Linked DNA regions of Homo sapiens: all the other regions are linked to region 3. A link means that fine-mapping ties the variant in region 3 to the expression of a gene that starts in the linked region. Tissue or cell type: cerebellum. Region 3 holds a variant in brackets; each other region holds the start of a gene. All regions are shown on one strand. Distances are between the middles of the regions.

Evidence for each region. PIP is the estimated chance that this variant, and not a neighbour inherited with it, causes the effect.
Region 1: JAK3 starts here. The variant in region 3 is fine-mapped to the expression of JAK3 in cerebellum (GTEx, PIP above 0.99). The same link has a PIP of 0.9 or more in cerebellar hemisphere.
Region 2: INSL3 starts here. The variant in region 3 is fine-mapped to the expression of INSL3 in cerebellum (GTEx, PIP above 0.99). The same link has a PIP of 0.9 or more in cerebellar hemisphere.

What each region holds. Positions count from the first base shown.
Region 1 is chr19:17,846,713-17,849,320 of GRCh38, reverse strand. It overlaps JAK3 (Janus kinase 3), which reads left to right and starts at 1,339. Exons shown (of 24, transcript NM_000215.4): 1 at 1,339-1,375.
Region 2 is chr19:17,820,143-17,822,750 of GRCh38, reverse strand. INSL3 (insulin like 3) reads left to right here and starts at 1,232. Exons shown (of 2, transcript NM_005543.4): 1 at 1,232-1,434. The coding sequence starts at 1,245.
Region 3 is chr19:17,789,923-17,792,678 of GRCh38, reverse strand. No RefSeq gene overlaps it. Among named protein-coding and RNA genes, the nearest start is that of B3GNT3, 3.8 kb to the left of the region's middle. The variant A/G (reference allele first, on the strand shown) is at 1,154.

The DNA.
Region 1 (2,608 bases), 57 kb before region 3:
TCCAACTCTCCTGTGGCTCCAGATTATGCTCCAGGCAAAACCCACCCTTCTCCCAAAGACCCTGATCCCCCTGTCCCCCCACGATCTTGCCCCTGTTGACCGCCCTGCAGTCCCCTTCCCCCTCATCTCACCCCTGCCCCTGGCCTCCTGACTGCTCTTCAAGCTGCTAAGATCACTGCCCTCTCAAGGTCTTTGCCCATCCTGTGCCCTCCTCCTGGAGCACCCTTTCCCTGGCCAGCTCCCTGTCCTGCCTCGGGTCCAAGTTCCAGTCTGTGCCTGTCCTGACACCCTGGCTTTCTTTGTTGTCTGCGATGATTTGGCTCCTTCATTTGCTCATTGTCTCAGCGCCAGATCACAAGTTCCAAGAGGCCAGGCCGGATCCACCTGGTTTTTTAGGGCTGGGCCCAGGGCACCACAGGCAGAAATGGGTCATTATCTCTCCCTGAGTCTTTTCTTTTTTTTTTAAACGAAGTCCCGCTCTGTTGCCAGGCTGGAGTGCAGTGGCGCCATCTCGTCTCACTGTAACATCCGCCTCCTAGATTCAAGCAATCCTCCCACCTCAGCCTCCTGAGTAGCTAGGATTACAGGCATCACCAGGCCTGGCTAATTTTCCTGTTTTTAGTAGAGACAGGGTTTCATCATGTTGGCCAGGCTGGTCTCAAACTCCTGACTTCAAGTGATCCGCCCGCCTCAGCCTCCCAAAGTGCTGCGATTACAGGCCACCACGCCTGGCTAATTTTTGTATTTTTAGTAGAGACGGAGTTTCGCCATGTTGGCTAGGCTGGTCTCAAACTCCTGACCTCAAGTAATCGCCCGCCTCAGTCTCCCAAAGTGCTGGGATGACAGGCGTGAGCCACTGCGCCCAGCGTCTCCCTGAGTCTTAAGGGAGAAATACCTCAAAGAAGAACTTGACCTTCCTCTGGGGCAACTTCCCTGCTTCCCTCCTGGGCAAATCCAGCCAGGTTTCCTTCCCTGGGTGCAAAATTAGTTCCACTGGGTGCCCAACTCACACATGCTACAGATGGGTAAACTGAGGCAATAAGGGCCGGGCCAGAGCCCCACTTAACAAGTGGGTCTAGAGTCGGCTGAGCCCCTGGTGTGACCCAGACCCTTCTCTGTGCTATCATCAGTTCCTTTGGCTTAGGGGTCTCCAGCAGCCTGTCTGAACGGGGCGGCTGATGCAGAGGCTTCCGGAACTTTCTGCCCCTCCTTGCCCGCCTCCCCGCCCCCAGCTCCCGCAGGGCCCTGACTTTCGGTAAATGACAGTGGCTCAGGAAACCAAGGGGCCCACACAGGAAGGAGCCGAGTGGGACTTTCCTCTCGCTGCCTCCCGGCTCTGCCCGCCCTTCGAAAGTCCAGGGTCCCTGCCCGCTAGGTAAGAGCTGGCGATGCCGCAGGGCTCGGCCCAGACACTGGGGGAGGATGGTGGTGGCGGGGGATGGCTGGGCTGGGGCAGGGTGCTGCCAGGGCAAAGGCTAGCTCGCCTTCCAGGCCTCGGAGGAAAGCTGCGAGGCAGACGTGAGCCGAGACTCGCATCCTCCGATCGCTCGCTTCTCTGGGCTTCGGCTTTGACTAAGGCCGGGAGATGCCTGCCTTGCGGACCTGGAGGAGTCATTGCGCATGCGCGACGGGGGCTGCGGGGTTGGGGGTGGGGAGGAGGGATTGGGAAGGAGGGATTGGGGGGCGGAGTTCCCAGCCCCTACCCTCCAGGCCTTCCCGGTCCAGACACAGGGTACCCGACCATACCAGGATGCAGAACGTTGAGGATTATAAACAGGGGATGCCGAGGCGGGAGGATAGCTTGAGGCCAGGAGTTCAAGGCCAGCCTGGGCAACATAGCCAGACCTCCATTTCTACAAACATTTTTAAAAAACCAAAAAAACTATGGCGTTTTCTGGGACCAAACATCACCTCTGACTTTTCATTTTTTTTTGTTACAGTATTACAGAATAATAATATTCTGTTAAGATTTTTTTGTTGTTTTGGAGATGGGAGTCTTGCTATGTTGTTCAGGCAGGTCTCTAACCCCTGGCCTCAAGCTATCCTGCTGCCTCAGCCCCCTGAGTAGCTGGGATTGCAGTGGGGCGCCACTGCCACTGAAGCCTTATTTTAAACTCGACTGGGGCTGGGCACAGTGGCTCATGCCTTTAATCCCAACACTTTGGGAGGCTGAGGCCAGCGGATCACTGGAGGTCAGGAGTTCGAGATCAGCCTGGTCAACATGGTGAAACCCTATCTCTACTAAAAACACAAAAATTAGCCAGGTTTGGTGGCGGGTGCCTGTAATTCCAGCTACTCAGGAGGCTGAGGCAGGAGAATCGCTTGAACCTGGGAGGTGGAGTTTGCAGTGAGCCGAGATCATGCCACTGCACTCCAGCCTGGGAGACAGAACAAGAATCCGTCCTCCCCCCTACAAAATAAATAAATAAATAAAAAGGCTGGGCAATGTGGCTCACGTGTGTAATCACAGCACTTTGGGAGGCCAAGGCAGGCGAATCACCTGAGGCCAGGAGTTTGAGACCAGCCTGGCCAACATGGTGAAACTCCGTCTCTACTAAAAATACAAAAATTAGCTGGGCGCTGTGGTGCGCGCCTGTAATCCCAGCCA
Region 2 (2,608 bases), 30 kb before region 3:
CGAGATCGCACCACTGTACTCCAGCCTGGGTGACAGAGTAAGACTCTGTCTAAAAAGATAAAAATAAAAATTAAAAAATTAAAAATTAGCTGGGCATTGTATTGCAGGCCTGTAGTCCCAGCTACTCAGGAGGCAGAGGCTGAAGGATCGCTTGAGCCCAGGGGAATGAGGTTACAGTGAGCTATGATCCTGCCATTACAGGCCAACCCAGAGAGATCCTATGTCAAAAATGAATAAATACCCTGGTGTGGTCGCTCTCGCCTGTGATCCCAGGACTTTGGGAGGCTGAGGCGGGAAGATGACTTGAGTCCAGGAGTTTGAGACCAGCCTGGGCAACATGGCAAAACCCCATCTCTACAAAAAAAATACAAAAAATTAGCCGGGTGTGGTGGCGTGGGCCTGTAGTCCCAGCTACTCAGGAGGCTGAGGTGGGAGAATTGCTTGAGTCAGGGATAGGGAGGTGGCAGTGAGCCCATATCGTGCCACTGCACTCCAGCCAGGGTAACAGAGCAAGAACTCATCTCAAAAATAAAAAATAAAAATAGGTGGCTGGGCGTGGTGGCTTACACCTGTAATCCCAGCTACTTGGGAGGCTGAGGTGGGAGAATCACTTGAACCCAGGAGGTGGAGGTTGCAGTGAGCCGAGATCGCATCACTGCACTCCAGCCTGGAAGACAGAGCAAGACTTTGTCTCAATAATAATAATAAAAATAATAATAGTCCAGGCACAGCTCATGCCTGTAATCCCAGCATTTTGGGAGGCCGAGGCAGATGGATCGCTTGAGGTCAGGAGTTGGAGACCAGCCTGGCCAACATGGCGAACCCCAGTCTCTACTAAAAATAAAAAATAAAAAAAAAAAAATTAGCCAGGCATAGTGGTGCGCACCTGTAATCCCAGCTACTCAGGAGGCTGAGGCAGGAGAATCGCTTGAACCCGGGTGTCAGAAGTTGCAGTGAGCCGAGATCAAGTCACTGCACTCCAACCTGGGTGACAGAGTGAGACTCCATCTCAAAAAAAAAGAAGAAAAAAATAAAAAAGAAAGACTCGTTGCCCAGTGCTCCCTCTGGGAGAAGTACATCCAAGGCCCTGGCCCTGGGAGAAAGGCTCTGGCACTAACCCCACCCTTGACCTTTTTCCTGGGCGGTCCTGAAGAATGTTCTGTCCCTTCTCCAAGGCCCCCAGCTGGGACGGCCCAGGCGCCTATAAAGGGGGTCCCCGCTTGGCCCCGGCGCCACCCACCACCATGGACCCCCGTCTGCCCGCCTGGGCGCTGGTGCTGCTGGGCCCTGCCCTGGTGTTCGCGTTGGGCCCCGCGCCCACCCCAGAGATGCGTGAGAAGTTGTGCGGCCACCACTTCGTACGCGCGCTAGTGCGCGTGTGCGGGGGCCCCCGCTGGTCCACCGAAGCCAGGAGGCCTGCGACCGGAGGCGACCGTGAGTGGGGACGGGCAGGGACAGCGCTCTGGGAAGCCGAGGTGGGGCAGGTGCACGTAGGCGCAGATGCACACGTGCAGGGAGGTGGGCAGGTTTGCATGCATGTGCCCAGGGCTCACCTGCCGGCTGCGTGCACAGATCGTGGGTCCGCACTGGAGTGTGTGTGAACGCGCGTGTGAAAGTCCCCAGAGCCGTTAGCCAGGCGTGGTGGCTCACGCCTGCAATCCCAGCACTTTGGGAGGCTGAGGCGGGTGGATCCCCAGAGGTCAGGAGTTCGAGACCAGCCTGGCCAAAATGGTGAAACCCCATCTCTACTAAAAATAATTTTTAAAAAAATTAGCCGGGGATAATGATGCACATCTGTAATCCCAGCTACTTGGGAGGCCAAGGCAGGAGAATCGCTTGAACCCGGAAGGCAGAGGTTGCAGTGGGCCGATATCATGCCATTGCACTCCAGCCTGGGCGACAGAGTGAAACTCCGTCTCAAAAAAAAAAAAAAAAGAAAGTCCTCAGAGCATGAGTCCCCCTGAGGGGCCAGAAACAGAGTGAGGCAGGAGAGGTAGGCTCTTGCAAGTACATGGTGAGATCCTGTCTTAAAATTTCAATATTTTGATCTTCATGAATTTTTGCCTTAATTTTGCTTTGTTTGTTTGTTTTTTGAGACAGGGTCTCACTCTGACGCCCAGGCTGGAGTGCAGTGGTGAGATCTCGGCTCACTGCAGGCTCAACCTCCTGGGCTCAAACCATCCTCCTGCCTCAGCCTCTGGAGTGGCTGGGATACAGGTGCTGCCACCACACCCAGCTAATTTTTTTTTCTTTTTCGTAGAGAGGGAGTCTCACTCTGTTTCCCAGGCTGGTCTCAAACTCCTGAGCTCAAGTAATCCTCCCACCTTGACCTTCCAAAGTGTTGGGATTAGCGATGTGAGTCACTGTGTCCAGCTTTAAAAGTATTTAAAAGTATTGCTTTTGAAAAGTATTGCTTTTCACAATTATGTTACTTTATTTTATTATTTTATTTTTATTTATTTATTTTGAGACATAGCCTCGCTCTGTCACCCAAACCAGAGTGCTGTGACGTGATCTCGTCTCACTGCAACCTCTGCCTCCCGGGTTCCAGCAATTTTCCTGCCTCAGCCTCCAGAGTAGCTGGGACTGCGGGCACGCACCACCACAC
Region 3 (2,756 bases):
TGATCACCCACCCAAGTGTCCAGTGGATGAATGGATAAACAACATGTGGTCCATCAGTGGAGTCTTGAGTTTTTTTTTTTTTTGTTTTTTTTTTTTTTTTTGAGACAGAGTCTCGCTCTGTCACCCAGGCTGGAGTGCAGTGGCAGGATCTTGGCTCACTGCAACCTCCACCTCCCAGGTTCAAGCAGCTCTCTTGTCTCAGCCTCCCGAGTAGCTGGGATTATAGGCACCTGCCACCACGCCCGGCTACTTTTTGTATTTTCAGTAGAGACGGGGGTTTCACCATGTTGCCCAGGCTGGTCTTGAACCCCTGACCTCAAGCAATCCACCCGCCTCAGCCTCCCAAAGTGCTGGGGTTACAGGTGTGAGCCACTGTGCCCTGCCTGGAGTCTTTTTCAGCCATCAGAAAGACTGAAGTCCTGGCCAGTAGCTCACGCCTGTAATCCCAGCACTTTGGGAGGCTGAGGCAGGCAGATCACTTGAGGTCAAGAGTTCGAGACCAGCCTGGCCAACATGGCAAAATCCCTCTCTACTAAAAATACAAAAATTAGTTGGGCATGGTGGCGCATGCTTGTAATCCCAGCTACTCGGGGAGCTGAGGCAGGAGAACTGCTCAAATCCAGGAAGCAGAGGTTGCAGTGAGCCCAGATCATGCCACTGCACTCCAGCCTGGATGACAGAGCGAGACTCTGTCTCAAAAAAAAAAAAAAAAGAGAGAGATTGAAGTCCTGATAAGAGATTGAAGTCCTGATCCCTGCTACAACAGGGATGAAATAAAAAACACGATGCTGAGTGAAAGAAGCCAGACACAAAAGGCCACATGTCGTATGATTCCATTTATGTGAAATGCCCAGAACAGGCAAATCCACAGAGACAGGAAGCTAATTAGTGGTTGCCAGGAGCTGTGGGAGGGGAAATGGGGCATGACTGCTGAAGGGGACAGGGTTTCCTTTCGGAGGGGATGAAAATGTGCACAAATTAGATAAAGGGTGTGGTTGCACATATTATGAATATACTGAAACTCACTGAATTGTTCATTTTAAAGTGGTTCATTTTTTGTTTTGTGAATTTCAGCTCAAAAGAAAATCCAATTAGGCCACTTATCAGCTGGGGGTGGCCTCTGACATGTGGCCCAGTTGATGGTGCTGTGCCA[A/G]TGGATCACTCTGTACCACAGCTGAGGTTTTAAGGCCACCCGGGTGGAAGAGACCAGGGCATGTAAACTGCATAATGGCATCACGCCTGCCCGGGGTTGGCAGGTTTAACGGGTTCCGCGCCCTCTCTCTTGGAATTCACTCTTCTGAGATAGGTCACGTCACACCTGCTCTGGAAGGCTGGGCAGTTAGGAGGCCACACCTGGGAAAAGTGCCTTCTGCGCTTTTTTGTTTGCTTGTGTTTTTTTGTTTTTTTTGTTGTTGTTGTTGTTGTTTGTTTGAGACGGAGTCTTGCTCTGTCATCAAGGCTGGAGTGCAGCGGCGCCATCTGGGCTCACTGAAACCTCTGCCTGCCGGGTTCAAGCAATTCTCCTGCCTCAGCCTCCCGAGTAGCTGAGATTACAGGCACCTGCCACCACGCCCAGCTAATTTTTGTTTTCTTAGTAGAGATGGGGGTTTCACCATGTTGGCCAGGCTAGTCTCGAACTCCTGGCCTCAAGTGATCCACCGGCCTGGGCCTCCCAAAGTGCTGGGATTACAGGCGTGAGCCAATGCGCCCAGCCCTGTTTGTTTGGTTTCTTTTTTGAGATGGAGTCTCTGTCTCCCAGGCTGGAGTGCAGTGGCATGTTCTCAGCTCACTGCAACCTCCTCGTCCTGGGCTCCAGAGATTCTCCTGCCTCAACCTCCCGAATAGCTGGGATTACAGGCGCCCACCACCACGCCTGGCTTATTTTTGTATTTTTAGTAGAGATGGGGTTTTATCATGTTGGCCAGGCTGGTCTCGAATTCCTGACCTCAAGTGATCCACCTGCCTTGGCCTCCCAGAGTGCTGGAATTACAGGCATGAGTCACCATGCCCAGATGCCTTCTTCATTTTAAAAGGTGCCCAGCCTCATTTGTGTCCCCAGGAAGGCAAATAAAAGCTACTAGGAGGTGCCATGTACCCGCCACTTATCAGACAGGGAAGAACCCATGCCCAGATTAGGCTACATTATGAGGAGGTGGTGGCAAACAGATTTTGATTTTGTCACCTCTATAAAGCTCAGCTCTGATACCCAGGGCCCCATGGATGTCTGACACCCAGTGGCCCCATGGATGCCACTACTCTCTGACACCCAGAGCCACACCCACTGGGCAGGTGTGGTCTCTGAATTTACAGCCTAGGTGCTAAGACCTGCAAGGGAGAAGACATGAAGGGCTGGGAAGTCCCTGGGCTGTTTGTAGCCAGACAGGGCAGGTGCTGCAGCCACCTCTGCCCCCATTTGATGCCCCAACTCCTATAATCATCCTTCCTTCCTACAGCTGACGTTTTTGTTGTTTTTGTTTTGTTTTGTTTTGATACAGGGTCTCACTCTGTCACCCAGACTGGAGTGCAGTGGTACAATCTGGGCTCATCACAACCTCCGCCTCCCAGGCTCAAGCGAGTCTCCTGCCTCAGCCTCCCAAGTAGCAGGGATTACACGTGCACACTACTACCGCCTGGCTAATTTTTGTATTTTTAGTGGAGACGGGGTTTCACCATGTTGGCCAGGCTGGTCTTGAACTCCTGACCTCAAATGATCCACCTGCCTCGGCCTCCCAAAGTGCTGGGATTATAGGCATGAG